Linked DNA regions of Homo sapiens: regions 2, 3, 4, 5, 6 and 7 are each linked to region 1. The links come from fine-mapping of genetic effects on plasma protein levels. Region 1 holds a variant in brackets. A gene starts in each other region. All regions are shown on their forward strands. Distances are from middle to middle.

Region 1 (4,065 bases):
CTAGCCCTTTGGGAAGCCAAGGTGGGTAGGTCACTTGAGGTCAGGAGATCGAGACCATCCTGGCTAACACAGTGAAACCCCATCTCTACTAAAAATACAAAAATTAGCCAGGCATGGTGGCGCACACCTGTTATCCCAGCTGCTCAAGAGGCTGAGGCAGGGGAATCACTAGAACCGAGGAGGCAGAGGTTGAAGTGAGCCAAGATCATGCCACTGCACTCCAGCCTGAGCAACAATCAAGACACTGTCTCAAAAAAAAAGAAAAAGAAAAAAAGAAAAATTCCAGGGAGAACCACTAGGTAAATTGGTATCAATGCAGTCATTGCATTGATGAGAAACAGTCTAGGACTTCAGACGGAGACTCTGATTCTAAACTAAGGAAAGTCAGAGGGAAAGTCAGAGGGATCATTGTGTGGCGCCTGGGGCGAGAGTGGGAATGTGTGTTCTCTTGTGCCCTAGAGCAGGCTTTCTTTATCTCGGCACTACTGACATAACTCTTCAGTGTGGGGGCTGTCTTGGGTACTGCATAAGGAAACCCATATCCACCTGAATACAGAAGACTCTAGATTCTCCTGGGTCTCAAGTGCCCAACAAAACCCACTTTGTTCCTTTGAAGTCAGGGTAGCATTTCCAAGGCTGCCGTGTAAACAAGTGTCCCCTATTAAGTTGGTTTATCCCTTAATTTATCCTACAAATATTAATGAAGCACCACAGTGCCAGGCCTGGCGCTGGGATGCTAGAGAGAGAATAGGCATGAAAAGGGGCTTGGTACCTGCCCTCCCACCTCTCAGAGTCTCAAGGCATGGTTCTCCACCTGGGTGACTCTGTCGCTCAGGGAGCATTTGGCACTATCTGAAGACATTTTTTTTGGTTTTCACCACTAGGTGGGGGCCAGGGAGGGTGGTGCCATGGCATCTGGTAGGTGGGGGCCAGGGAGGGTGGTGCCGTGGCATCTGCTAGGTGGGGGGAGGCCAGGGGTGCTGCTGAGCAGCACCCACAATGCACAAGACAGCCGCCTGCAACAAAGAATTATCCAGCGAAATGTCAGTAGTGCCAAGGTTGGGGAAGCCTGGTCTAGAGGGGAAACAGACCTTAATCAAATCGTCTTATTACTTGATATTTACTTTCATTTTCACGTATTTACTTTACAAATGCTCTGACATCGAGGAGAGTGTGTAAGAATGGAAGCAGAGGCACACCTGGGCCAGGGTGAGAGGCAGTGGCCAGGGAAGTGCTCCTGGGAAGGGCCACATGGGCAGACATTGGAGGATGGACTGGAAGTGACTGGACAAAGGGGCGGAGAGATGGAAGCAAGGAAGAGTATTCCAGACAGAAGCTCTCAAGTGCAAACAAACCTTGTGTTGGGAGGTACCATGGATTATTCTGGAAATATTTTTCCTTTCATACCATCATCACCTTACAGCCTTTGCAAGACAAGGGCAACTCTGTGTCCATGACTCCAACAAATAGGCAGCTCATCAAGACATACTGCAGAACCCAACCGGACAGAAACTGGAAGAATCATTCACACTCCAGTGTCTATCTTGTTCCATGGCTCTCTTTCTCACCACCCGGCACTGCGCATGACAACAGGCAGGAATCAAAACCCTAAGTTGACATTAAAAGCCTGAGTTTCATAAAACGAAAAACTGATAAAC[T/C]GAAAAACTGATCAATTGGACCTCATCAAAATGAAAAGTTTTACTCTGCAAAAGATCCTGCAAAGATGATGAAGAGACTAGGAGAAAATATTCTCCAATCACGTATCTGTCAAGGGACTAGTATCTAGACTACACAGAAAACTCTTAAACCCCAACTGTAAAAAAAAATCGGATTAGGAAATAAAAGACATGGATAGATATTCCATTAAAGAGGATGTATAAATGGTAAATACGTCCATTAAAAGATGTTCAACATCATTAGCCACTGGGGAAATCCAAATTTTTAAAACCACAATGAGATGTCACTATATGTCCAGATGAATGGCTAATACTAGTGACAACACCAATTGCTGGTGAGGATGCAGAGAAACTGGATCACTCACACATTGCTGGTGGGAATATAAAATGGCACAGCCGCTCTAGAAAACAGTTTGGTAGGTCAGGTGCAGTGGCTCACGCCTGTAATCCCAGCACTTTGGGAGGCCGAGACAGGCGGATCACCTGAGCCCGAGGTCATGAGTTCAAGACCAGCCTCACTAACATGGTGAAACCCTGTCTCTACTAAAAATATAAAAATTAGTCAGTCGTCGCGGCAGGTGCCTATAATCCCAGCTACTCGGGAGGCTGAAGCAGGAGAATCGCTTGAACCCGGGAGATGGAGGTTGCAGTGAGCCGAGGTTGTGCTATTGCACTCCAGCCTGGGCGACAAGAGCGAAAGTCCGTCTCAAAAAAAAAAAAAAAATAGTTTGGTAGTTTCTGTTTATTATTTATTTTTTTTTAATGTAAGTTTGGCCGTTTCTTACAAAACTAAACATGCACTTAACTGTATAATCCAGCAATGCTGGACATTTATTAGAGAGAAATGAAAATCATTTCACATAAAAACCTGTATACCAATGTTCACAGCAACTTTATTTTTTAATAGTCCCAAAGTGGAAACATCCCAGATGTTCTTCAGTAGGTGAATGGCTAAACTGTGGTACATCCACACCACAGACTACTACTCAGTAATAAAGAGAAATAAACTACTGACACACAAAACAACTTGGTTGGATTTCAAAGAACTATGCTGAATGGAAAAGCCTATTTCAAAAAGATGCATAGTGTGTAATTCCATGTATATAACATTGTTGAAATGACAAAGGTGCAGAGATGGAGAATAGATCAGTAGTCACCAGAAGTTAGAGAACAAGAGAGGGAAAGGGATGTGTGTGACGATAAAAGGGAGGCATGAGGGGTCCCTGTGGTGGAAATGTCCTGTATCTTGCCTGTGGTGGTGCCCACACAAGTCCATACATGTGATAAAACTGCATAGAAGTAAATGCACACACCCCAGTGAGTACCTGTAAACCTGGTGAAATCTGAATAGGGTGGGTGGATTGTGTGATGTCAGTTTCCTGGTTGTGGTACTGTACTACAGTTATGCAAGATAATGCCTTTGCAGGAAACCAGGTAAAGGGTACACGAGAGCTCTCTGAATTACTACTTTTTTTTTTTTACGACTGCATGTGAATCTATATAACTATCTCAAAATAACAACAAAAAAACCCTACTGTAAAATTTTAGTCAGCAAACAAATGCCAATGTACCTTAAGACAGATCTTTTTATTTCTTACTTTTTCCCTGTACTGCAAATGTACAATCACACAAAAATGTAATATTTTTGGTCCTTTCAAAAAGAATAGCTACAGTTTTAGGGTGCTTGCATAATTGTACATTCTCATAATTATTTGACTTATAACAGTATTAATTCTTATTCTATAAGAAATTAACAAAAGGATTTAGGACACTATACATGGCCCCTGCAGGTTCCTAAGACAAACCACCCAAGTTCAAATGTCACCTCCACTGCCAATTATCTGTATGACTTTTGACAAGTGCTAGCCTTCAGTGTGCCTCAGCTCCTCCATCTGAAAATCGGTGTAATAGTAGTTCTTACTTTAAGAGTTGTTATAAGGATTTTAAAAAGTACTATGTCTCAGGTTCTTAGGACAGTTCTTGAGGCCCCACTCGAAGCTGGCCTCTGCTGTTACCCCATTTACCACCATCATCACGAAGGCCTGGGGTCCTCTCTTCAGGCTTTGAAGGCCTATACTACAGTCCAGCTTAACATTTCCTCAAGGGCAAAATGTTCAAATATTATAATTTCTAAAAATCAAAACACATGTTTAAAGCTGCCTTTAAGACTTGTGGTCTTTTTTCAATTTCCTTTATTTCTTTGTTATTAGAGGGAGTCAAGGGTCTCTAGTATGTGACTTTATCAGACTTTCACATCTGGTCACAGGTCCTCAGGGAAGGTGACTTGAGAGGCCTTGCCCTCCCCAGGGGAAGCAGCTCAGCCCTGTGACTCCATCGACAGCCCTGATGATGGGCTTAGGAAATGATTGATGGTCACTGGCGACTGAGG
Region 2 (4,065 bases), not on the chromosome of region 1:
ATTTCAACTGTTCTCTGAAGTGCTACATTATTACCAAGAACTAGGATTCCTAACTTGACAGCTATGAAACTAAAGAAAACTATCACATTTTATATCTCAAAAGCAGTTTTGAAGTCATGACCACATCTTTTCCTCCAAGGATAACAGTTTTATTTCCACTCATTTAACCAGGTCTTTTTTTAATCTTGTGTCTTTAACCTAGGGAATGTCTTTGAATCCTGTAGATTCCAGGCAAATTTTATACATATGTATATTTTTCTGGGGAGAATTTTCATTGCTTCATATTCTCAAAAGGCATCCATGATCAAAAAAGTTAAGACTTAATATACAGCAATTTACACTTGGCTATACCGACCTACTTATGTGTCTTGTTAGACAGTTTCACCCTAATAATTTGTACTTAGAACTTCAAAATTGGCTTAGTAGTGCAGCTAACTGAAAATCACTAAGCAATGCCCCAAAGCCATTTTAGATACTTGTTTCTATCAACCTCTCTCCACGATATATTTCTAAATATAATTTAAAGGTCAGAACTTCACCTGTCTCACTATCTCTCCACTCCCCTTTATAATGAAATGCAGGCAGCTGACTATCGTGTTACAAATCTGGGTATTCTGAATGATCAAGAACTGGCTGTGTCTTCAACCGAAGTGAACAGACTGACCCAGGCGATCACTCCAGTCTACTACTCAGAGATTAGAAAATACATAATATTTAAGTCATCTGGCTCAATTCTATTCACCTCTCTTAATTCTCTTAGAGCAGGAAAAAGGCACGAACTCCCTTTCAGAAACTTGGAACAAGCCTGCGTGCTACCTAGATTACGAGGGGCCACAAAACAGTGTTAAAGCATTCTTCAGCTCAGTCTGTAACTGAAAACGGTTTCCCAAACACCTTCGTACTGTAGAATGGCTGCTGGGTGTTTCGCCTTGACCTTCTTTAACTAAGCAAGGTGCAATAAGAGGGTCACAGGGCACAAGTTAAAGCTGCAAAGGGACAGAATCAAAGGCACCCTATCCGCTGCCAGGGACAATTTTGTTTTTTAAAACTTAACTACCTCCTCCCTCTGTATTCCACACGTCAAGTTTTTCTTTCCCTGCTATCGTCAGCGAAGATTACGTCTCAGAGTCTTCTGTCACAGCATGACACTTGAACGATGTGACAAGATGCCGTCAGCGAATATTTCACGCCAACATAAAGTCGTGGGAGAAATGCTGTGTTTGGGTGGGAAATTAGCTGCCCAGGTAATCCAGCAGGTAGGCGTCCTTCCTCTGAGCCTCAGTTTCCCCGACAGTGTGACAAGAGGGCCTGGCAGGGCTGGTCTGGAAGTTCTTCCCTGTCTCGGGGGTGTCCGCCACACGGGCCGAGCCCGGCCCTGCAGCCCCCACCACACCTGTGGCCGAGGCTCAGCGCCTCCCGTGAGGACGCAGCTGGGGCTCAACCCCGCCCTCCTGGACCGGGCTACCCTCACCTCCTGCCACCATCTTTACCTGTCCCCGTTAGCAGGGAGCACTCTGCGAGAAGATGGCCAAAAGGTCCGCCGCCGCCGCTGTCCCGGGTAAGTTCATGGCCGAGCCTCTGCTTTGGGCTGACCCCGTCCGCCTCCGCCTCTGCCGCCAACGTCTCCGCCTTCCGGGCCGTACGCCGCCGCCACGTCCGCAAACCTGAGATGCGTCATCGCGTCAAGTGGGCGGAGGTGGGAAGGGGCGGGGGAGGACGCGGAGGGCAGCCCAAAACGGGGGAGTCCAACCACAGGTCCACGCCCGGCACGCAGGCGCAGGGACTCCTCCGGGGCCCGGGGGCGGGTCCAATCCCCGGGCCCGGGGGCGGGTCCAATCCCCAGCCCCGCCCTTGACTCCGCTCCTTCCGTGCCGCTTCACTCCCCGAGGAAAAGATTTGGTGGCCAAGTCAGCGGATCCAACCCGCGACCACCAGCGACCTACTGGCTGCGTCTTTGTCCAGCGTCCACACTGCGCTGGCAGAGACTGTCGGGTGCACCCTGAGGACGAGGCGTGGCTCAGGATGTGTCGGGGAGCTGTCTTGCATTTTTTTCTTGCTGTGCATCTCGAATTTTCTTTAGGGTGGGAAAGGACACCTCAAAAACACTGTTGACATCACGGTTTCAGAAAATTGCGCCATGTTTGTTACCCTTTTCATGCTGAAGACTCCAGACTGCTGCAGAAGAGGCAGAATTCTGGAGAGAAATCCTTGGGGGACCGAGGACGAGGGTTGGAGGGGGTTGTCTCACCCTTCCTGTTTTTAGGTGAGGGAAGTGAGCCACCTAGAGTCAGGCCCCAGGAAATGTTTTCCCTGGCTCGAGGAGTCAAGGGAGTCAACAAATTGTAATCTAACTTATTTTGGTTTGAAAATTAACTGAGTCATTGGTAGTCACCATTGGACTCTATGGAATATTAGCTTATTAAATAAACTCATGACTTCATACATGATTTTTATCACAAATGTGTTAAATGAGTATCATAATGTGTTTGAATTTATGTATGACTTTGGCAAAAGCCGCAACTACTTTTGCACCAACCTAATTAATGAATGTAAAGCATTTTAATGAGTCTGATGTCTCTCAGTGTTGATATTAGAGACGTTGCACTTTGACAACCATGCTAACTGTTACGACAATATCCATTTTAGGCACAAATAGCTGGGGTGCAGGGTGCAGAGCAGTGCTTTTCAGAATGTCTGAATATTTATACATTAGAAAGCCTTTGAAGCTTGGTTTTAAATTGTTTTTCAAAGAGTATGTTTTTGGTTTTCTGGTAAGTGCCTCTGCAAAGGTTAGGAGTTTTGCATTGCAATAGTTTTCTTTTATTAGCAGGGATAGGCACTGTGCTTCCCAGCGCCACAAAAAAAAACTGCAGGAGAAGACTTTTTTAAAAAGTTTGTCTGAATTGTTCTGTGTGTTGTTGCCCTCATGACACCCCTGTCTGTAACCATTTATCACTGAGACGTTCTCTCATCAGCAGACAAAGGATATATTCCCTGCTTGATATGTAGGACTTCGGCTGCTTAGCCCTCATGAATGTTAATGGGAATACAACCTTCTTTCTGTCTATAGGTTACTTTTCTTATTTTAATGTCAATAGACAGCGGAATTAATGTGAGAGCCAAAGTGATAGATTTCAAGCACTTCTATAGGACCGATACCTGTATCCTTCATATAAATAACTTTCTCAAAGATATCTGCATGCTCTTGAATAGTTATTTGTATTTAACAAGGATGCAAATATTAAACTTTTTATAAAAATGGAAGAATAGGATTATATTTTATTATTAGAATATACAAAAGAAGCAGTTAGCGTGAATTTTGGCCAAGTTCCAAAAAGCCGGCCAGTAGGAACAAGCATTTTGTCTTTGAGAAAAAGGATGTCCCCAGTGCTCAGCAGAGCCAAAGGATTTTTAGTGTTTCAAGATTTCACCTGACACAGTTTCTGTTAAAACGCTATAGATGAAAGAATATGTCATTTCTAGGAATATGTGTTTTAGTCACTAACGTTTAGTTTTTGTGAGTTGCCCTAGAGTAGAAGTTGTACTGAAGTGAGAGTGTAAATTGATGCAACCTGTTAGGCAATATCTATCAAAATTTTAAATGCAACTGACTGAACTATTACATTGCTAAGTAATTACCTTAGATTTACTTACAGACACATATGTGCAAGATTTAACAGATATGTTCAGGAATGTTTGCACAGTAATAGCCAAAATCTGAAAATATTTTAAATGTTTATCAGTAGTTGACTGATACTTCCGGTACATTAAAACAATATAATGTTATACTTGGTTTCAGAAGAGTGAAGTTAATCTGGCATTTGCTGATTTATTCATTCATTTACCTAATAAGTTTCTGTTGAAGAAAAACAGTGCTTAAAAAGACAAATTCCCCTTACTTATGGAGCTTGAATGACTGAAGCGTGTAGAAAGATCTTTAAAATGTATTTTAGTCTATTTTAGGAAGAAAAAATAGGAGGTATGATATTATTTCTATGGAATAAAATTTCAAATAAGCATCCCTCATCCTACCCCCCGTACCCCACCGACACACATATACACATA
Region 3 (4,065 bases), not on the chromosome of region 1:
GGAGAGAAAGGAAGGAAGGAGAGAAAGAAAGAGAAAGAGAAAGAAGAAAAAAAAAAAAATTAGCTGGGCATGGTGGCGGGCGCCTGTAGTCCCAGCTACTCAGGAGGCTGAGGCAGGAGAATCGCTTGAACCCGGGAGGCAGAGGTTGCAGAGAGCCGAGATTGTGCCACTGCACTCCAGCCTGGGCAACAGGGCGAGAGTCCGTCTCAAAAACAACAAATCAGAAGAGGCAGAAAGCAAAAATTTGAATCATGGCTTTGTCACTTTCCAGTCCTAAGAACTTGACAAGTCACTAACTTGTCAAGTAATGTGAAATCATGAAAATGCACATGTTAATTTCGCATCAAATTGAGTTTTTTCCACCCAAATGTCTTTTCAAAAAAGTGAAATAGAAATACCATAAAAATCGTATTTACTTTTCTTTGGTGCGCAGAAGCCCATACAAGTAGCTTCATCTGGAAACCTGTTCTCAATCCGGTTCCGGTGACACCCACCGGAAAAGAATTTTTCACATGTCATGGAACTTAGATTAAAGAAATACTTTTCTGTGGACCCCTCACACTGGTCGTCCACACTCACTTGCAGCCGGCAAACTTTGGGAACTTCTAGGAAAAGGAGGGTAATAGAACAATGTTAGTCAAAAGTAGCCTTCTTATTAAACCATCACTGTATTTTCAGCAACATTTTGTGGGGGGAGAGAAGTTGTATTAGTGTTGGGATAGTAAATACCCAGAATACTCCCATGAATCCAGATATTTACTTTTTTTTTTTCTAACAGTGTATTCAGAGCTGACTCAGCTGTGATGTATCTTTCAAGTTCAGTAGAAAGACTCTCTGTTTTCTCTGGGTGTTCTCTGATTGTACATATGCAGTGAATCAAAGCTTATTCACATGAATACGCATTTTCCCCTGGCTCAGTTCCTTGAATGGAAAAGCCCCATGTTCTCTTACAGGCCTTAACCGATATAATTTAAAAATTAAAAATAAATTAAAATATAACAGTATTATGAATCTCCACCATGTCCCGCAACTAATCCAACACATGTTTGGGTATCGGGACAAAAGTAGAGTTATATAATGAGCTAAGTCACACTTCAATAATAAAATCCACTAAAAATATTTCAGATTGATGGATAATCGACAGAAGGAAATGATGTACTCCAGGAGAGATAAAAATCATAGGTTTGGAATTAATGAAAAATACAGAGAAGCACTTACGTTGTACCTAACACGTTATTCTCTTGCATTTATTATACCCCATGGTGAGGGAACAAATCTTTCCCTGAGTCCGCACAGGCACTGAATTATGATCAATGTCAGTTGGGAGACAGGAAATGTGTTAGTGGTTGTAAATTTGTGATTACTTTTAAGAAACTGAAAACCATGAGGTTTGCTTAACACTTGAGAAAACCCAGGCTAAAACTTCCTGTAGAAAGCGAGACGTGGGAAACTGGCGAAGCTGCTACCAGCCGCCGGCGCAAGGAGCGCGAGAGTCCTGGGTGCGCGCAGGGCACTTACTTTCTATCCTCCAGCAAGCATCGTCGCAAGCCTCCCAGGTGTAGAAATTGTTGGCGTTGCCCTCGCAGCCCCCGTACAGGAACTGGCGGCAGCTCTGCGTGTACCTGTCGTAGTAGTAACGGAGAAGTAGGGCCCGGCAGGGTCCGTAGTCTAGGGGCAGGAGACAGATCTCCGCGTTATTTCCTGAAGAAGGGGCAGAAGGAGAGCAAAAGAGAGGGAAAGTGGTCAGGCGTAGCTCCTAGGAGGAAAGAACATCCCGGGGAGTTCTGTCCCCTTCCGAGCGGAGGGGCCTCTGCAGAGAAAGTGCAAACTTGGGAGCGAGTCCCCCCTGCCAGCGGAGCGCGCGGCAGGGACCTGGAGAAAGCGAGGCTTGGAGGGCGCCTACACGGGGCCCCATGGCCCGCTGCGCCCTCTCCGCCGGTTGGGGAGAGAAGCTCCTGGAGCGGCCAGATACCTGTTGGCTCCTGAGCAGCATCGCCCAGTGCAGCCTCCGTCAGGAAAAGCAGCAGAATCGACAGCCCCAGGGGGCGAGCGGGGTCCATGGTGCAGGGGGTCGGGCGGCCCGCTGGGCAAGGCGTCCGAGAAAGCGCCTGGCGGGAGGAGGTGCGCGGCTTTCTGCTCCAGGCGGCCCGGGTGCCCGCTTTATGCGGGGCGAGCGTCCGGCCGACCCCCGCCGGGGCGGAGCCTGAGGGGTGGCTGATTCATGCACGGGGACTGTCACCCCGCCGCCCCCGCGCTGCAAACTGTGTAAGAGGGAGAGGAATTCCCCGCCAAGTTGAAAAGTTGAACCTGCCTCCCAAACTTTCTCCTGTAGTCCAGACGGGGACGCCCTGAGGGAGCGTTTGTGTCAGTAATGGGAAATCTGCAAGCTAGACGGAAATGACCTGCTAGTGATTGCGCTGTAAAGAAGCCGGAATCCACCTCTTGAAGGCATGAAGTTCAGGTATTTGAAAGGCTGGTGGAGAGAAAGTGCGGAGTTCTTGGGTCAGAGCGGAGCGGGATTCGTTGCAATGGACCTTCAGATTAGATTAGAAATGTAAATAAGTGTATATTTATATTTATACACACAGATTTCAATCGAGTTCTAATTTACATTTAATACAGGCTTATAATATATCGTAGGTGGACAGTTTGATAAATTTTGACAACTGTGTAGCCACCAATAAAGAATTAGAACATTTTGGCTGGGCGCGGTAGCTCGCGCCTGTAATCCCAGCACTTTGGGAGGCCAAGGCGGGTGGATCACCTGAAATCAGGAGTTCGAGACTAGCCTGGCCAACATGGCGAAACCCCGTCTCTATTAAAAACACAAAAAATTAGCCGGGCGTGGTGGCGGGCACCTGTAGTCCCAGCCCCTCGGGAGGCTGAGGCAGGAGAATGGCTTGAACCCAGGAGGCGGAGGCTGCAGTGAGCCCAGATGGCGCCACTGCACTCCAGTCTGGGCGGCAGAGTGGAACTCCGTCTCGAAACGAAGAAAAAGAAGAAGAAGAAGAAAAAAAAAAGAGTTAGAACATTTCCATCACTCCAGAAAGCTCCTGCAGACTTTTTCCTAAATCAATCCTTCCATCCTTAGGCCAGGGGCAAACACTCTTCTCATTTCGATTACCATAGATTAGATTTGCCTATTCTTGAATTTCATATAAACGGAATTATAAAGTATTCACTGTGTAGTATTTCTTTCTCACACTTCCTGTTTTTGAGATACGCCCAGGTCACTGCATCAATAGTCTGTTTCTTTTAATTCCTGCGTAGTCCAAGGTATGAATTTACCAAAACGTATGAATATCCCACAATGTATAAATATGTTGCTGTGTGTATCAATAGTCTGTTCCTTTAAATCATTGAGTAATATTCTAATATATCACAAATGTCTTATTACTGGAATTTGTGTTGTTTCTAGTTTGTTTGGGGGCTCTTATGAAAAAAGCTGCTTTGTGTGGACCTGCAATTTTTATTACTCTTGGATAAAATACTTAGAAATGTTAGACACTGCCAAAGGATTTTTTCAAGATGATTGTACCATTTTACACCCCAACCAAGCATGTATGAAGCTATGTTTTTGTATGTATCTATGTTTTTGGAGAAGAACCATAGCAGCCCAGAGAGATAGCCTTGGGGAGTTCTGAAGATTTGACCAGATCAGTGTATTCCCACACATTTCCTAATGTCAGTGCATCCATTAAAGTTCCCTGTTCCTTTGACATATTAGCTTGTGATCCACTTTTTTTTTTAATACAAACAATTACCTACAGTGAAATTTTACATAAAATATTAAAGATATTTTTGAAGACATTTTAATATACTTGTCTTCCCTTCCCCTTTTCTCTTGTTGTATTCAACATTCTCAAGTAAATAATTATTCTTGACTTCTGAGGATACTGGGGGTAGTTTACAGAAGTTCTCTTTCAAGTTTTCAGGAAGCCCTGAAAAGTATAGGACACACTTGCTCAAAGTGGGTTAATAATCTGAGGTATTTTGCACATTATATCCTTGTGCCAGTTTTCAGTCATTCTGATGTCATGTTACAAGGTCACAGTCCTAGGAAAA
Region 4 (4,065 bases), not on the chromosome of region 1:
GGGGGCCTCAAGCCCAGCGCCCTCCCTTCCACCAGCTCTCCCTCCCGCCCTCTGGGGAAACCGCCCCCTCACCCCGCAGCAGGGAGTCTCCCGCCGCCCCCAGCCTCAAGAGGTGGAGAACTGAGGGCAGGCCCGAGCAGGAGGCCGACGAGAACCCTCACGGTCAGGAGAGCCGGCGGCGGGGCGCACAGACCTGGTGCAGGGCAGTGAGTCCGTCCACATTGGCGTAATTGATGTCGGCGCCGCGGTGCAGCAGCTTGAGGACCTCGTCCGTGTCGCCGCTGGAGCAAGCAGCCAGGAAGACGGCGCCATCGTCGAACTTCACCTTGGTCTTCTGGCGCTTCACCACCGGAGGCTCGAGGTCCGTCTCGGAGCCGATCCAGCGTTTCAGCTGCTCGTTCCGCTTCTGCTTCGCGTCCGCCATCTTCATCCCCTCTCCTGCCGCCGGGTCTTCTTATCGCGAGGGGGGGAAGGGGGAGGCGGAGAGGGAAGAGAGGGGAGGCAGGGGGTGTGTGAATGTTTCTATGAGTGCGGGCCAGAGGAGGGCTGGGAACCCGGAGCCGACGCTCGAGACTTCCAGTATCCCACAGAGCACTGGGGCGGCGCACCCGGCCGAGCGGACCTCCCTTCCTACCACAGAAGCCCTCCCGCCCCCAGCACGGCCACCCGTCACCGGCGGCCAATCTAACGTAACTTCGCGAGATCCGGACTGGGAGGCGCCCTTCGACCAGTGCGCATGCGCCCTGGGCCTGTGCCCGCCCCAGGAAGAGCGCTCCCGCGAACTGCGGCGGTGGTGGCTGGGCCACCAGAGGGAAGCGGGTGTGGCCCAGGCAGCGGGGGCTGGGACAGACCTGGAAAGGAGGAAGCGGGGAAGGAAGGTTGTCCTGTCGGGCTGGGGGCTCCCGGGAATCCGGAGGCCAGCAGTGGAACCGCAAGGCTCTACAGGGCAGATCTGCCTCCCGTGCTGTCTCAGCTACGCCGAGTCGTTGGCTCAGGGCGGAGGATTTTCCTATTGGCCGCGTTATTTGAATGGAATGGAGGATAGGTCGTGAAGTAGGTGCTGCTGGTTGATCTTTCTAAGGAACTCAGATGAACTTGGGCATGTCAGAATTAATAACCTTTTAAAAGTGGGGTCTGTGTGGCCGAGGGTTTTAATGGTAAGTTCTTGAGGTGACCACCTATTGACAAGGGTTGACCTGCTGTAATTGCTGTGGCTTCCTGCCAACCCCCACTTTAGAAATGTTTTTCTTCCTCTCTTTACTTGTTTTGTTTTGCTTTCTCTCACGCTTGGGTTCTCTTCTTTCTTCCTTCAGTGCTTTAAGCCTGTCTCGTACTACCCATGAGCTTAGCTCAGCCTGATTACTGGTCCTTACCTTTTAAGGGATTTCTGGTTACAGCTCCATCTCTTTCTAAGGAGGGGTAAAGACCTAGCTGCGTCTAGCATTTAAACGGAACGTTAAGGAAGGCAATTAATTCAACCACTATTTATTGAATACCTACTATGAGCCAGTAACTGTACTAGGCACTGAAGATACAATGAAAAATATGACATTTATTTGAACCACCTCTTGAGTTCAGTCGCCCAAACAAGACTAATTTATCATCGTCATAAAAAAAAGACTTTAACTTTGCCTTGTATGACCACACGCGCACACACATAGGATTTGTAATACTGATGTCTTATGAGCCATCTATCTACAATCTCCACCAATTGATTTTACTGAACACTGCATTGTTACCATCCACTACTATTTTTAGAGCATTTAGAAAAGCCAAGATAAAAACCACAAAACCTTACCATGGAAGTTTAGGGGTCATCTAGACAGAGTCCCTCAAGAACTAATTAATTTACTTAATTTTACCCAGAAGTAGGATTAGAATTCACTCAGCAAATACTATGCACCTGTTCTGGGTCAGGCATTGTTCTAGGTGCTGGAGATAGAGCAGTGAACAAATAAGCTTTTCTTACTCTCAGCATGATGCCTTTTCCAGTGGACTACTTCACAGCCTATCATATTGAGAAATAAAATAATTGAGTAAAACGTGATTAGGAAACTGTCTGCCTGTGAGACAATTTTCTGAACCACAGTTATTAGGATAGCGATAGAATCCAGGTCAGGGTAAAAATATTTCCTCTGAAAACGTTGTAGGAATAGAAAATGAATGTAATATTCATAAGATATACCATTGTATGTTCATTACATACATTAAAGATAACATCAGACCTTTGAATACTCATGGTGTTAGGTACTGAAAAACATTGTTAGCACTAAAATACAAAATCCCTATCCACAGAATACAGCTCTCAGAATAAAAGAAAGGAACTTGAGGATTGCCTTGTCAGCTCCTGTCTCTACCTAGGCAACTGACAGCATATCCTGTTTTCCAAGAACGTTATGGCCTATGTGGTAGCTCTTAAAGTGCCCTTGCAGTATAGATGGGAATCTGAAGATTTCATTCAGGCAAAAGGAATTTAGTGGGAAGTATGCTATTCCTGATTCAAGCACTTATTTCAGGATGCAAAATTAATAATAGTTTATTAATAAAACATAATTAAGTTCATTCAGTTCCCAGAAGCTGTCAGGGAAAAAACAACCAAGGAGGGCTGCTATCATGTGCAAATTTCACTGAATTTAGTTTTTCTTCTTTCGTGGCTCTAAGGGTCAAGATGCTCTATGTTAATATTGAAAGTACTCTGAAACTGCCACCTACTTTGTCTTTAGGGAGGATTTTTTTTAAATTGTTGTTAGTGAATTAATGGTACTGAAGACCTTGGGTTAATTCTAGAACAAGCAAAATTTTTTATTGACACACACAGTCCCAGCACAGTGGCTCACACCTGTAATCCTATCACTTTGAGAGGCTGAGGCGAACTCTGCCCAGGAGTTCGAGGCTGCAGTGAGCTCTCTGCACTACAACCTGAGCGACAGAGCTAGACCCTATCTTTACCAAAAAAAAAAAAAAAAGACACACACACACACACACATGCTTTTATTACATATTTGTCTAAGCAGAACAAATGGAAAAAATGCAAATATTTTCACTTCCTAATGGCTTCTAAACAGATTGGGATGTGAGGATACATTTTAGCTCCTTTAAAGCAAATTAAGCCTTAAAATAGAAGTACAAATAAAACTATACTTACTAATTTGCATATATGTATATATAAAAATATATTTTTGGCTGCACCAAATCAATCATATTGGAGGTTTTTGTTTCTGAGACAGGGTCTCACTCTATCGCTCAGGCTGCAGTGCAGAGGCATGATCTCAGCCTCCCAAGTAGCTGAGACTACAGGCGCGTGCACCACCAGGCTTAGCTAATTTATTTTTTAAGTTTTGTAAAGATGGGGTCTACCTATGTTGTCCAGGCTGGTCTCAAACTCCTGGGCTCAAGTGATCCTCTGCCTTGGCTTCTTAAAGTGTTGGGATTACAGGCTTGAGCCACTGTACCTGGCTGGGGGTTTTATTTATTACATGCACAAGATTGTCAGAATGAGATCTGTGTATATCTTTTTCAAAGTTTAATCACACTACTGACATTCCTTACCATTAATTTGCTTGCTAATTATGATCAACTTAATTTAAATTATAAACATATTTGAAATGCTGACATGCACAGCTTAGATTTGTTTCTGCTATTATAATCTCTTTGTTAAAAATGTACATAAGATATTAATAAATACTTTGATATATCTATGTTCTCTTTATCCCTAATTTAAACCTGAGATACTAATTTACATTTATACACTTGAGAATAGAACAGTCAACAAGGACCTTGTTTCTGTCTCCTGTATTCTACACCTGGGCCAAACTCTCTTCCATTGCATAATAATTTCTTTCCAATGTTTTATTTAAGAACCTGAAGAAAAGGCTGGGCACGGTGGCTCATGCCTGTAATCCCAGGGCTTTGGGAGGCCCACGTGGGCAGATCACCTGAGGTTAGTAGTTCGAGACCAGCCTGGCCAACATGGCAAAACCCCCGTCTCTACTAAAAATACAAAAATTAGCTGGGCGTGGTGGCACGTGCCTGTAATCTCAGCTACTCGGGAGGCTGAACCCGAGA
Region 5 (4,065 bases), not on the chromosome of region 1:
TTCACCCAATAAGTGTCAATAATTATGATTCGTTTTGGCATTATTATGTCAGTAATAACTATTAGCTATGATTCTCCTCTAATTTGTTCCTAAAGTTTCATGAGACTCGATTTTATATTAAGGAATCCTGCTAAAAAGTAGACATATTCTAATAAGAATTTCCTTCAGATGGCAAAACTGGGGCAAAGAGATGAAAATGACTTGCCCAAGGGCTCAGAGGCTGCTCCTAAATGGGGAGAGAGGCTATTTAAGGCAATGGCGGTGGATTTCCCCAAAGACAAGGGTTTCATACACGTAGAGTCTGGAACGGGAGTCCAGGCTGTACCACTTAACTCGAGGGGTCATTTGGGAAGTTACCTGATTTCTCTGAGCCCTGGATTGTGCACCTGCCAAATAGATATAATAAATATACCTACAGTTGGTAAAACTCAATAGCATGACGCATGAAAACTGCATGTGGTCTGGGCTCAATAAAATCAGCCTCCCCATTGATTATTATCATTATTATTACTATTGTTATAACAGATCTTTAGGCGGCGTCAGGAAGTGCCTGTCTGGGATGCTATAATGCGTTTGGCTCACCACTATGCCCCAGCGCCTGGCACCTAGTAAACACTCAGGAAACGTTTGAGGAATGAATATACGTCATTTGAGGCAAGACAGGGCAGTCGGCTGACTGCCTCCGGGCTTAGCTCTTCCCCTCCTTGCAAAAGCCGGAGCCCTAAGCAGCGTGTAGCCCGGGAGCCCAGGCATTACTTGGCAGCGGGTGAAACCCACCTTGCCCCATTCGGAGCTCTTGGAGAGCGCCCCGCCTGGATGCGCATCTCTGTGTGAGCGGCTCTTTCCTAAGCCCTTATTTTTCTGGTTTGCGGTTTATTTACTTAAGCATTTACAGCTCCCAGGAGCAGAGGGGCTGCTAGAGGTACGGTCAGGACTGAGGTCGCGGTTTGTATTTATTTTCTGCCTCCCAATCTCAGAGCCGGCAAGTCACAACACGGCTCCTTTATTTGTGCACCGGAGAGGTCTGCCTTTCTTTACCTCCTCACGGGCGATAAAAGACAAGCAACTCGGGCTCAGAAAAGTGCTCTCACGCGACTTGCCTGTGTCTCCGCTTGCGTGGACCGTCGCTCCCAGGCTTGGTTTCTCGTGCAAACCCGAGCAGGGCGGAGCAGATTAAATAAAGACACCTCGCGCCTTTAATCCTTGACCGCAAACACTGGCGTTTTTGTGCCCCGGATTTCTGAAATTCTTGGCTCGGGGAACCAAGGCAGGGGGAGGGTGGGCTTGTAAAAACTTCCCAAAGCAGAAATCCGAGCTCCTAGCCCCTCCCCGGCCCCAGTGACACCTGGATTCCAGGGAAGGGGGGCAGCCGGAGGAGAGGCGTCCCCAAGGGTTGCGGGCGCTTCCCAGGGGTGACTTTGAACGGCTGGCTCCAAGCCCTACCGACCCCAGCCAAGGAACAGGCTCAGCAGCCTGAAAGCCTCGCAGGACGCCCCTCCCCTGTCCCCGCACGCGTCTATTTAGGGCCCAGCCCGGGCGCCCAGGGGATTCTGGGACTTGTAGTCCCTCCCCGCAGCCTCAGGCGCCGCCACGACCCGCTACTTGGACTACATTGCCCAGGGAGCTTCCCGGCCTATATAAGCCACCCGGAGCCGCTTTAAAGTGCAGTAACCATGTGGATGTGCTGCTGAAGCGTTTCCTCAAGCTCGCTGGGGTGGGAGGAGAGGAGGAGGAGGAGGTGGTGGTGGAGGAGGAGGCAGGGGGTGGAGAGAGAGAAAGCGCACGCCGAGAGGAGGTGTGGGTGTTCCGCTTCCATCCTAACGGAACGAGCTCCCTCTTCGCGGACATGGGATTACCCAGCGGCTGCTAACCCCTCTCCTCGCCCTGCTCCCCCAAACCGGCGTGGCTCCCCGGGCACCAAGGTAGCGGCTGGGGCCGGGCAGAGGGCGCGGGGAGTTGGCACTGGCTCCCCGGGCGCAGAAGTTTTTGCCCCGCTCTCGGGGAGATCTTGATGGATGTGCATGCACTTGGCATGCATTTGGGGGTTCCTTTACTGCGGGCAGTTGTTTTGGGGGGAGCTCATTTGAAGCTTAAAAAACAAATATCCTCTACTCTAGTGCGTGGCTTTGGGGGCTCCCCATTCTGGTCTGATGTGGCATTCCCCCAAGTTGGAAACTGTTGCTGCAGCTGCAGGAAATAGTTCTTTTTTTTTTTTTTTTTTTGAAGAGAGGTTGTGGGGGTGTCATATGTGAGTCTGCTCAAGGAAATAATCTTTCTAAAAATGTATCCCTCTCTTGCGCTCCGTGGTTGGGAGAATAATGCATGTGTAGGGGCCCCCCGTGGGGAGGGTTTTTAAAAACGGAAGAAAACCGGAGAAGCGGTGAGGGATGAAGTGTGGACGAAGCTCATGTCCAATGAGGATGCGGGCTTCGGATACTTGGCCTTCTCGCCGGGAAACAAGTGCTTTGGGATCTGCCAAACACTTCCCTTAGTTCCAGCCTCCCGCACGTTCGAAGTTTGTGCGTGCCTAGTCTCAATTGTCAGTTACATCCTGGAAATAAGTAAGCGTAGTTACCTGGAATCTTCGCCCAAGCGATCCCACCAACCTGCCTACCAAGTTTGGGGGCGGGGGGGCTGTCCCCAGTGAAGGAGGCTAAAGAAGGTGGAAACTTGTAATTTGGAGCATTTCTGTTAGAGCTCATCTTCCGCGGTCTGGTACTCAGTCTTCTTTCTTTCTAAATATTTAGGAGCTGACTACAGAGGAGCAGGATTTGCACCCCTCGCTGGGCTTGCTTTGGCAACAGAGTGCCTGACCCAGGTCAGGTGAGTGTGGAAGCCTGAGTGCTGTAGTCAATAATGAGTTTTTGTCCTAAGCCTATTTTAAGTTCTATCTAAACCGCCAAGGAGGTGGGGAGTAAGAAAGAAAAAGAAACTCCGTGGCTCAGTCTTCAAAATTTGCCTCTGCCTTTGGTGAGGGCTTTTGGGAGCAGAGGTCCAGTGGACAGTCCGTTTCTTGGAAGTAGCTGAGAATTGAAGGAGCCTGAAAGTTTATGAGAGAGGAGGGGAAAAGGCCATTAAATGGAGCAATAAAACGGCGGCCCATTGCCGGTCTGAAAAGCATGCTGATGATTTAAATTCTGAAGGATACAGTGCATTTCATATGCCAAAATGTGTAAGCAGTATTAACTGCCTCTCTCCTTCAAGAAATAGTCACTCTTTTCTAATTTTGAACGTGTGCTTAATCAGAGTAGGTTGGATTGCAAGAAATGAAAGTGGTTGCTGCAAGTTGAAAGAATTAGAACTTTAAAAAGGGAAGTGAGTTATTGAAGCTTAAGGTGGTAGCATCCAGCCCTTGACTCAAGCCACCTGAGTGTCAAGGAATCTGGCAGGTCCCTGTTGTTTTGGGGCCCGTGGTGGAATATGAGCTGAGAGCAGCATTTATCTGTAAACACAACAGTTCCTATTTTTTCCCCAAAATGGTCAGACTGCATTTGAAGAGTGGGAGGTTTCAACGGGTGCACGTACATCACTATTGCTGCAGATTTGGCTATCAGGAGTTTTTTCTCCTGAAATGTTCAGGAACATGGTAAATAACAGGGTAACAGAGGTAGGTGGGGGTGGGTGGCTGGGTCTTAATAACTTTTTTAACATTCTAAATATTTAGCTGTTCCCTGGGCTACAATCTTTGGGCTTTTCTAATGAGAAAATAAAAGTCAGACACTTCATTATAGTGGTATAGTGCTTTTGTTTCCTGTTGATAAGATCCTCAGGAGTACTGGCGGAGTGAGAAGCATTTGGATGTGAGAACTCTAGTTTCTTCTTGGAGTTCTGTTGACTCACATGGCTGTGTGGGTGCTCATAGAGCCAAGGATTAGGCCCAGTTCCCCTTTTCAGAATTAGCTGTACAGCAAGGAAAAACTGGTCCACAGACTCTTTTCTAACTGGTTGCTAAAAATAATAAGATGGACACATTAAGTACTTGTAAGCCAGGTCCAGAGCCATGTATCTCAGAAACCCTGTGCGTCAGATGCAGGTGAAGAAACTGAGGTGCAGAGAGTGAAATCA
Region 6 (4,065 bases), 120 Mb before region 1:
GGGACAACAGTAAGGACTTGGTAAGATTTCCTGGTCAGATGAATGATTGGTTAAAAAACTTTCCTGCTGGGAGCGGTGGCTTACGCCTGTAATCCCAGCACTTTGGGAGGCCGAGGCAGGCGGATCACGAGGTCAGGAGATCGAGACCATCCTGGCTAACATGGTGAAACCCCGTCTCTACTAAAAATACAAAAAATTAGCCGGGCGTGGTGGCGGGTGCCTGTAGTCCCAGTTACTTGGGAGGCTGAGGCAGGAGAATGGCGTGAACCCGGGAGGTGGAGCGTGCAGTGAGCCGAGATCGCGCCCCTGCACTCCAGCCTGGGCTGAACAGAGCGAGACTCCGTCTCAAAAAAAAAAAAAAAACTTCCCATGGCTCCATAAATCCCCTACTTTATTAATTCTAAACCCTTGCAGCGACTATAGAATACCCCCAAAATAAACATTGAAACTGCTGTTCGAAGACCTGGGTTCTAGCTCCTGCTCCCAGGCCTTTCTGGGTTCAAATTTTGGCCCTCCTTCTCTTACTATCTGTGTGATCATCCATAAATTTCCTAATCTCTCTTGGCCTTAACTTCCTCACCTCTAAAATAGGAATCATTATAGTACCGATTTCCCAGGGTTGCTCAATGATTGAGACAATGGCACTAAGAATCATGACTCACACAGTTAAGCACTCAACAAATGTAGGTAGTATTACTGCCATAATAATAGTTATTCAACTTTAAATGGTCTTTCCTCTTGGGTCTCAGCTTTCTTACTCAAGATTGACCACACACACACTTTAGACTAGTTCTTCCTCCCTTGCAAAACTACACACATCTAACACCCATCCGACGCCTGAAACCTCCCCTAGCAACCCGGAGTCCTGCTGGGGTTTTCCAGCTCCACCTCCTGAACAGCTGGGCTGTAGCACACAGGCTGGATCTACTCATACTTGCCTTCCTAGAGCTCAACTGAAGTCACTTCAGACAAGTGAAGTACCCACTCACCTCTGGAATCAGATCTTGGTAACGCCAACAGGTTAGCAGGTGATTTCATTTCAGTGTGTGTCTGGGTGGCTAGCATTCAAACGCAGCTCACACTGGGAGCTATTTCTAGTCCAATTTTGCTACTTGGTAACGTATTAATAGCATCAATTAAAACATTCCCAACGAATAGATCTTTAAAAGGACGGTTTCTGACTTCCCTAACAAGCAGAGGGCCGACCACCTGCCTGCGAAGTGCCCCTCCTGCCCTGTCTCCAGGCAGCATGCTGTGAGCGATGACAGAAACTGGACCCGCGCACAGAGAAGCTGCAGGCACGCCCTGCCCGGCCACCCAGCTGCCTGCCTGCTTCGCCCGGCCGCCGAGCCCCGGGGGAAAACCTAGAATGGGGATGCCGGTGCGCCCCGACACCTGGGCACGGCCGCGGGCCGGGGAGCCGCCCACACTTGGCTCCCCAAGAGTTAAACGCTGAGTAATTTTCCTGAGGAGCAAACAGTCGGAGCGGGGGCTCTGCCAATGGCCACAGTATTTTTATCCGACTTAACCGACACCGCGGCGCGACCTCGGCTGTCCCCAAGGGTATCCCCACGCGGCACGCTCCGGAGTCCCCGACCGGGACCCTCGCCGGCTCCCAGCGCGACATGGACGACAGCGCCGCCGCCGAGTCCCCCGCGCCCGGGCAGGAGGCAGAGACCTGGGGCCGCCCGAGGACTGCTAGGGGCCCCTCCGCCCGGGGTCCGCGCCCGGGCCTAAGCGGTAGGGGGTGTGCGCCCAAGTTGGCCCGCTTTGCTGCAAGAGTGGAAAGGGGTGGGAGCAGAAAGCGCCGGCCCCGCCCGGGGCGGGGAGCAACGCGGGGCTGCAGGGCCGCCTCGGGGCCCCGAACCACCGCCGCCCGGCCCACCGCGGCGCCGGGGAATGAATGGGGCTCCCCAGCTGGCAGCGGGCGCGCACTCACAGGCGACGTAGGCCAGCAAGGCGATGCCCAGCAGCAGCTTCATCCTCCTGCGGTTGACGGCAGACACGAGGCGCAGCAGCGCCTTGCTCACCATCCCCGGGAGCCGCGCGGGTCCAGGGCCCTACCGCGCGGGGGCCCGCCTGCTGCACAATGCGCGGCGGCGGCGGCGGCAGCGGCCCCGAGAGCCCCGCCTCCTGCCGCCGCGCGCCCCCGCCCCCGCGCGCCTGCTTCCTGCTGGCGGGATCACCGCGCAGGCGCGCCTCCACCCCCTTCCTCCGGCTCCGCCCCCGCCCCTCCGGCTTCTCTACCCGCAGGCGCAGTTGCCGCCTTTCTTGCCTTGGTTTTCGAAGAATGTGACCTGGAGGGCTGGTGGGCGGTGCGGCGCGCCGCGGCGCATGCGCGTTCCGGTCTGTTTTCCCTGAGTTAAAGCGCGCGGGTGCCAGCCGGGAGGTGCGGCTGGATTCGTTTCGCTGAGGTGCGTCCCCAACCCAAGGGCACGACTGCAGTGGCCAGTTTCCGAGCCCCGCCCGGAGGGGGGCACGCGGTGGGCATTCCGGTGTTGCAGTGAAACGAAACTTATTTGCTAAACTTGGCCGAGCCTTAGAAGTTGAATGCCTGCCTCAGAAAGTTGCCTCGTTCTCTGGGCTGTTTAGTTGGCTTTTTTTAGTTAGAATATCGGCAGCGAAAATGATAAATCCCCTAAACCTTGCCGAAGTAAAAACTGGCTGCGTTTTTTTTCCTTGGCTATGATCAACTGGGGTGCCTTTGTTTTAATAATAGTCTTTTATTATTATTTTAAAAAGCAGTGCTAAGTATATTAATTTAGGATAGACTTGGAAAAGAAAAGATGAAATTGCGCTGTCTCTGCCTAGAGAAAAACCCTGACCATGTTGTCGTGTGTGTTTCATTCAATCTTTTTGTTGAGTATATCTGTTTTATGAGTGCTGTACTGATTGCATAGGAGGTACCTGTGTTTAAAAAGCATTTACTGAATGATGATTACAAGCAAGGAGATGTATCAGAAGATCCACAGATAATCGGAAGCTTGTCATTGGATCTGGAGAGAGCTGGTCCCATGGAGGAAAAAAAGACAGGTACACACAGATGTGTGTGATGCCACATTAAGAGAGATCCCGGATTTGGGATCTGCAGGCTTCAAGAGGTCATCTTCAGCTATACGGAGAAGTTGAAGTCAGCAGCGGCTCTCCTACCTCTTGGAACCTCAGGCCATTTTGCAAAACTTAATAGATCACCCTCCTTTAGATTTATTAGAAACCTCCAAGAAAAGGAAATATGGCAGCTGGTACTAAAGCAGCAGCTTTATGTTACATCTTTCAAACTATAGTGCAAATGATGTGATTCTGATAAAACCTACCTCCATCCTACCCCTCCCCTAAACCTGTTGAGAATCCCTGACTAGGAGGAAACACTGAGCGGTTTGCTAAGGCGGATTGCCCCTGCTATGCATGCTGCCCATAGATGGAGTGGACTTCTTTCGAGAAGCCCAGCTCCCTGACTCTGACGTGTCCAAGGAGGCTGCCAAGTGACAAAACACCTGGCATGGGAGCCTGAGTCCTGGGTTCCCAGAGGGGCCAGGCCCCCAGAGCACACCAGTTTGGAACAAATCGATTTTGTTTGTAAGTCTGCATTTCCTCGTGGCTTTCTGGCTATGGTTTTTGAAAAGAGAACTAGAGCAAGTGGAGCTCTAGGCCTTTCCCATTCCATGACTCCGTGGTTTTTAGATTAAAGATGAGGAGCAGAAATGGAAGAAAATAATAGTTCATTAACATTTGACCTATGGGCAAAATCAGACTGAAGCTTCTAGGCGGATTTCAAGCATTTTAGGTTTTAGGTAGGGTTTAGTTGATAGGTATCCTATTAGACGACAAAGGTCAGAAATTGTGGGGTATTTGCCATTTCTGTACTAAACTCCTTAAGCCCAGCATTCCCAGTTAGCATTTTTTTCTGCTGCTGGACACTACTGCCAACTTCTGCCCTGTGGGATTAAGTATATGGAAATACCGTTAGCAGCTGCAGTTGAAATAGCTGCTGCTGTCATTATTGCCACCCAGAAGGCGGTTGGTGTCCCAGGACACTGGTGTCTTGCTCAGCCGCAGCCAGAATTA
Region 7 (4,065 bases), not on the chromosome of region 1:
CACTTTTCATTTGAGGCTTTCAATTCAATAATTAATTGTTTCCTTAATGTATGATTTCCACTTCATTTCAGGGGAAATTGAGGAACAGGCAAATTTTCACATGACAGAATATAATAAAGTTTCCCTTTACAATACCCCAATCATTTTGCAACATTTTTTAAATGAAAAATTTTAAACATACAGAAACGTTTAAAGAATCTAACATTTGCATATGTACTCTTTCATTATGGGTAACACATTTAATTGTATTTTGTTCAGGGCTAGAGCACTGGAGGTTATACTTATTAAATCAATCGGACTGGCCGGATGCGGTGGCTCATGCCTGTAATACCAACACTTTGGGAGACTGAGGTGGGTGGAACACTTGAGCCCAGGAGCTCAAGACTAGCCTGAGCAACATGGCAAAACCCTGTCTCTACAAAAAATACAAAAGTTAGCCAGGCATAGTGACACAGGCCTGTAGTCCCAGCTACTTGGGGGGCTGAGGTGGGAGGATCGCTTCAGCCTGGGAGGTTGAGGCTACAGTGATCCACGACCATGCCACTGCCCTCCAGCCTGGGTGACAGAGCGAGACCCTGTCTCAAACAAAACAAAACAAAACAAAACAATCGGACAGATACATGTTTTATAACCCAGTCTTGGTGAATATAAAAATGTTCTATTTGCTACCTTAGGAATTTAGTATGATTTAGTATGCTTGATAGTATCTTTCTCTAGCTTTGAAAAAAAAAATCATGGGACAGGTACAGTGGCTCAGGGCTGTAATACCAACACTTTGGGAGGCTGAGGCAGGAGGATCGCTTGTGTCTAAGAGTTCCAGACCAGCCTGGGCAACATGGTGAGACCTTGTCTCTACAAAAAAATAAAAAAATAGTGGGTGTGGTGGTGGGCACCTGTAGTCCTAGCTACTGGGGAGACTGAGGTGGGAGGATCGCTTGAGCCCAGGAGGTTGAGTCTGCAGTGAGCCGTGATTGCGCCATTGCACTCAGCCTGGGTGACAGAGTGAGACTCTGTCTCAAAAGAAAAGAAATAAAAATCATGGAAGACATCTATTCTGTCTTGTAAAAATTTAAGGTATATGAAAAGAGTAGAGGAGGAGGAGGAGGGAGAAGGAAGAGAAATTATTTATTGGGATCCAATATGTGCCAAAGATAGTATTAGGCATCCTTGCATGTATTATTTCATTTGATCCACATGACTACCCTGTGAGATGTTATTCCCATTTTACACATAAGAAAACTGGCTAAGAGAAGTCAAGTAATTTGTCTGCGGCTGTGAATTCAATTTAAATTCACAGCTTAAACTCTTTTCACTACATCTGAATGCATCATTTTCAAGATCTTTTCTGGGCCTGGAGTAAGTTGACAGTATTTATGTAAAACATGTAATACTGTATCTGTATGTATGCTCCTCTTCCCCACGCTCATTCACATTTACCGTGATTAATACACATGTTAATAAAACCCTAGACTTAGAACTAGGATATAGAATCCAGTCGTTTAGGTACTTAATGTTTAGTTCTCTCCTCCAGAAAACAGGAATAATTACCGCCTTTTTTCCACTCCAAAGAATTGATGTGATAATTAGGGAGATAAGATTAGTTACTAGTCATAACAAGAATAAACTACAACTCCCAAAATGCCCAGAGGAAGAGGCTGACGCCAGTCCAGGAGACAGTTCCAGCTTTAGGGCAAAGGTGACCCCACTGGGTCCCGTGGCGAAAGAGAGAGCCGCCGGTCCTCGCCTTTTTTCTGATGCATCCAGGGATTTGTAGTTCCCTTACGGCCACCAAGTGCACTTAGGGCAGGCCTCTTACTACGAGTCCCGTGATGACCCGAGGCCGGGCAGCGCCTGCGTATTGAAGCCGAGGGAGCGTGCGGGCGGTACTACTGGCGGGAGGAGTAAAGATGGCGGCGCGAGGGTCTCCGCCCTCTGCTCCGGGCTGAAGCGCTCTGAGAGAGGCGGCAGCGGCAACTCGAGCCCCAACAGTAATTTAGTGTTGGTAGTTTTGGCAGCAGCTGCCGAGGCCGGAGCAATGGCGGAACTGGAGCACCTAGGAGGGAAGCGGGCAGAGTCGGCGCGAATGCGGCGGGCAGAGCAGCTTCGGCGCTGGCGGGGCTCGCTGACAGAGCAGGAGCCTGCGGAGCGACGAGGCGCGGGGCGGCAGCCGCTGACCAGGCGCGGGAGCCCCAGGGTCCGCTTCGAGGACGGTGCTGTCTTTCTGGCCGCCTGCTCTAGCGGGGACACCGACGAGGTGAGAAAGCTTCTGGCAAGAGGTGCTGATATCAACACGGTCAACGTGGACGGCTTGACAGCCCTGCACCAGGTAACTCCTTTCTTGGTCTTAGAGGCGTCCAGTCTCCTACAGATGAGCCTTTGACCCTGCGAGCCACCCCATGGGGAGTATCAGTGTTGCCGCCGACTCCTTCTGCATGGACACTGCCCTTTTGGGCTAATCGGTTTCATTCTTGGCCAGCTTCCTCCACTAATCAAGTCTTTTTCTGACCCCAGGGTCTTAGGAATAGCGTCACCCCGCTGCTTGGTCAGTGTTTGTATTTCCCTCCACCTACTTGTGTTGTCATGGTTACTGGTGATTTTTGTCCCTGGTCTTATCCCTGTAGATTAGTTATCTTCACTTATGTCTGGTTGGCGTGCCTGCACACCGCGTCACTCATAGGCACAGTGTCATTTGTTTGATGCCCTTTCAGAAAATTCAGTTGTTGTGTGTCCCCGTTATAGAATATCTTATATCACTTAAAGAGTAAAGCCCTTTACTGGGTAAAGACAAGCAGGTCTGAAACCACACCTCTTGTTTTGTTGATTTGTAGTACTTCAAAACAGTTTGTGTTGCCTCTAGGCTACAGCTCCTAGAACACGCTGGACCTCGTTGTTTTAGGTATCTTAACTTCCTTCTCAGCAGTGCTACCTCCCTGAGAGCTTCCTATGGAGAACTAAGTTACTGAATTACCTCTGTTTGATACTTATGGAATAGCTTTTCTATTTTTCTATTTTTTTTTCTAAAGTGCTCTATAGAAATCCCATGCCCCATGTATAGCTATACTATATGGATTGTGGATAATCTGTGCTTGGTAACGACACCTTTACTTCTGTCACCTAATGCAGCAATATTCTCTGTCTACTGACTGCCATGACTAACTACCCCTCTCTCCTCAAATGGAACTTCATCAGTTATTTTGGTGAGCTGAGAGCCGGACACCCACTCTTAATCTTTTGTATTTTTCTTCTTCTGCCGTCTGTGCAAAGTGAATGTATTGGCATGAGAATCTACTTCTAAATAATAACTCAACTTTATATCAGACCACTTCCCTAAATATATTTAGCCAATAGCTTAAAAAGTTACTTCTCACTATGTTTGCAACCCTTCTATTTCAGGTAGAAGAAACTCTTTCACCCTATTTTGTACCCATTTTTTTTTCCTGCTGATAATATTTCCCCACCTGAGGTAGTAACCAATATTTGTAGAGTGCTTTGCTGTTTGATTTCATATGTCTTACCCCATGTGAGTTTCAGCAGTGATCCTTTGAAGTAGGTGTGGCAGGTAGTGTTGTTATTCTCATTTTACAGATGAGGAAACTGAAGCTCAGGAAAATTATTTGTGCAAAGTTAGAAAGTAAAGAAGTGGCCCATAGGCATGGATTTTTCAGACTTATGTCACAGAGATCTCTATCTCACTTAATAAGGAGCTGAATGTAAAATGAGATAAAAGCTAAGAGAACCACATTAAATTCTAAACTTTAAATTTCTGAACTCTTTGGGAAGGTGAATTCTTGTTTTTCTTTTTCTTTTTCTTTTTTTTTTTTTGATTCAGAGTCTCGCTCTGTTGCCCAGGCTGGAGTGCAATGGCGAGATCTTGGCTCACTGCAACCTCTGCCTCTTGGTTTCAAGCGATTCTCCTGCCTCAGCCTCCCGAGTAGCTGGGATTACAGGCGCCTGCCACCACGCCTAGATAATATTTGTATTTTTAGTAGAGATGGGCTTTCACCATGATGACCAGGCTGGTCTCAAACTCCTGACCTCAGGAGATCCACCCTCCTTGGCCTCCCA

Which allele goes with the higher level. Positions count from the first base shown, and alleles are read on the strand shown. Strength reflects both the effect of a copy and how common the allele is.
As copies of C replace T in region 1, the plasma level of the protein whose gene starts at base 1,627 in region 2 goes up (weak association).
For the plasma level of the protein whose gene starts at base 2,135 in region 3, T is the low allele of the variant in region 1 and C is the other (weak association).
For the plasma level of the protein whose gene starts at base 596 in region 4, T is the low allele of the variant in region 1 and C is the other (moderate association).
With allele T in place of C in region 1, the plasma level of the protein whose gene starts at base 1,665 in region 5 is higher (moderate association).
For the plasma level of the protein whose gene starts at base 2,093 in region 6, T is the high allele of the variant in region 1 and C is the other (moderate association).
For the plasma level of the protein whose gene starts at base 1,883 in region 7, allele T in region 1 goes with a lower level than allele C (weak association).

Evidence for each region. A credible set is the group of variants that fine-mapping cannot tell apart. PIP is the chance, under the fine-mapping model, that this variant and not a neighbour inherited with it causes the effect. The UK Biobank Pharma Proteomics Project read protein levels with antibody pairs (Olink). The fine-mapping took linkage between variants from a reference panel, not from the people measured, so its PIPs are less certain.
Region 2: LYSMD3 starts here. The variant in region 1 is the best candidate, but not a certain one, in a credible set for the plasma level of the LYSMD3 protein (UK Biobank, PIP 0.79).
Region 3: it holds the start of TFPI2, and the variant in region 1 is the best candidate, but not a certain one, in a credible set for the plasma level of the TFPI2 protein (UK Biobank, PIP 0.79).
Region 4: it holds the start of PPP1R12A, and the variant in region 1 is the best candidate, but not a certain one, in a credible set for the plasma level of the PPP1R12A protein (UK Biobank, PIP 0.71).
Region 5: ITPR1 starts here. The variant in region 1 is the best candidate, but not a certain one, in a credible set for the plasma level of the ITPR1 protein (UK Biobank, PIP 0.54).
Region 6: UXS1 starts here. The variant in region 1 is the best candidate, but not a certain one, in a credible set for the plasma level of the UXS1 protein (UK Biobank, PIP 0.62).
Region 7: it holds the start of PPP1R12B, and the variant in region 1 is the best candidate, but not a certain one, in a credible set for the plasma level of the PPP1R12B protein (UK Biobank, PIP 0.53).

The regions. Positions count from the first base shown.
Region 1 is chr2:224,014,123-224,018,187 of GRCh38, forward strand. The region is part of intron 1 of SERPINE2 (serpin family E member 2); the gene reads right to left. The region is part of intron 1 of LOC124907990 (a long non-coding RNA gene); the gene reads left to right. Among named protein-coding and RNA genes, the nearest start is that of SERPINE2, 23 kb to the right of the region's middle. RefSeq lists an enhancer at 966-1,465. The variant T/C (reference allele first, on the strand shown) is at 1,659.
Region 2 is chr5:90,527,958-90,532,022 of GRCh38, forward strand. LYSMD3 (LysM domain containing 3) reads right to left here and starts at 1,627. Exons shown (of 3, transcript NM_198273.2): 1 at 1,491-1,627. RefSeq lists enhancers at 898-1,398, 2,024-2,283 and a silencer at 1,664-1,913.
Region 3 is chr7:93,888,619-93,892,683 of GRCh38, forward strand. It overlaps TFPI2 (tissue factor pathway inhibitor 2), which reads right to left and starts at 2,135. Exons shown (of 5, transcript NM_006528.4): 1 at 1,973-2,135; 2 at 1,519-1,701; 3 at 417-605. The coding sequence starts at 2,060. TFPI2-DT (TFPI2 divergent transcript) reads left to right here and starts at 2,276. Exons shown (of 2, transcript NR_134235.1): 1 at 2,276-2,461.
Region 4 is chr12:79,934,502-79,938,566 of GRCh38, forward strand. It overlaps PPP1R12A (protein phosphatase 1 regulatory subunit 12A), which reads right to left and starts at 596. Exons shown (of 25, transcript NM_002480.3): 1 at 194-596. The coding sequence starts at 430. PPP1R12A-AS1 (PPP1R12A antisense RNA 1) reads left to right here and starts at 780. Exons shown (of 2, transcript NR_146535.1): 1 at 780-1,053. RefSeq lists enhancers at 1-545, 182-481, 528-822, 546-1,111 and a silencer at 12-101.
Region 5 is chr3:4,491,684-4,495,748 of GRCh38, forward strand. ITPR1 (inositol 1,4,5-trisphosphate receptor type 1) reads left to right here and starts at 1,665. Exons shown (of 62, transcript NM_001378452.1): 1 at 1,665-1,922; 2 at 2,748-2,823. It overlaps ITPR1-DT (ITPR1 divergent transcript), which reads right to left and starts at 1,480. Exons shown (of 2, transcript NR_108075.1): 1 at 1,101-1,480. RefSeq lists silencers at 1,734-2,003, 3,302-3,596.
Region 6 is chr2:106,192,209-106,196,273 of GRCh38, forward strand. It overlaps UXS1 (UDP-glucuronate decarboxylase 1), which reads right to left and starts at 2,093. Exons shown (of 15, transcript NM_001253875.2): 1 at 1,940-2,093. The coding sequence starts at 2,033. RefSeq lists an enhancer at 1,186-1,235 and a silencer at 1,566-2,175.
Region 7 is chr1:202,346,817-202,350,881 of GRCh38, forward strand. It overlaps PPP1R12B (protein phosphatase 1 regulatory subunit 12B), which reads left to right and starts at 1,883. Exons shown (of 24, transcript NM_002481.4): 1 at 1,883-2,326. The coding sequence starts at 2,036. RefSeq lists enhancers at 1,630-2,170, 1,842-2,151.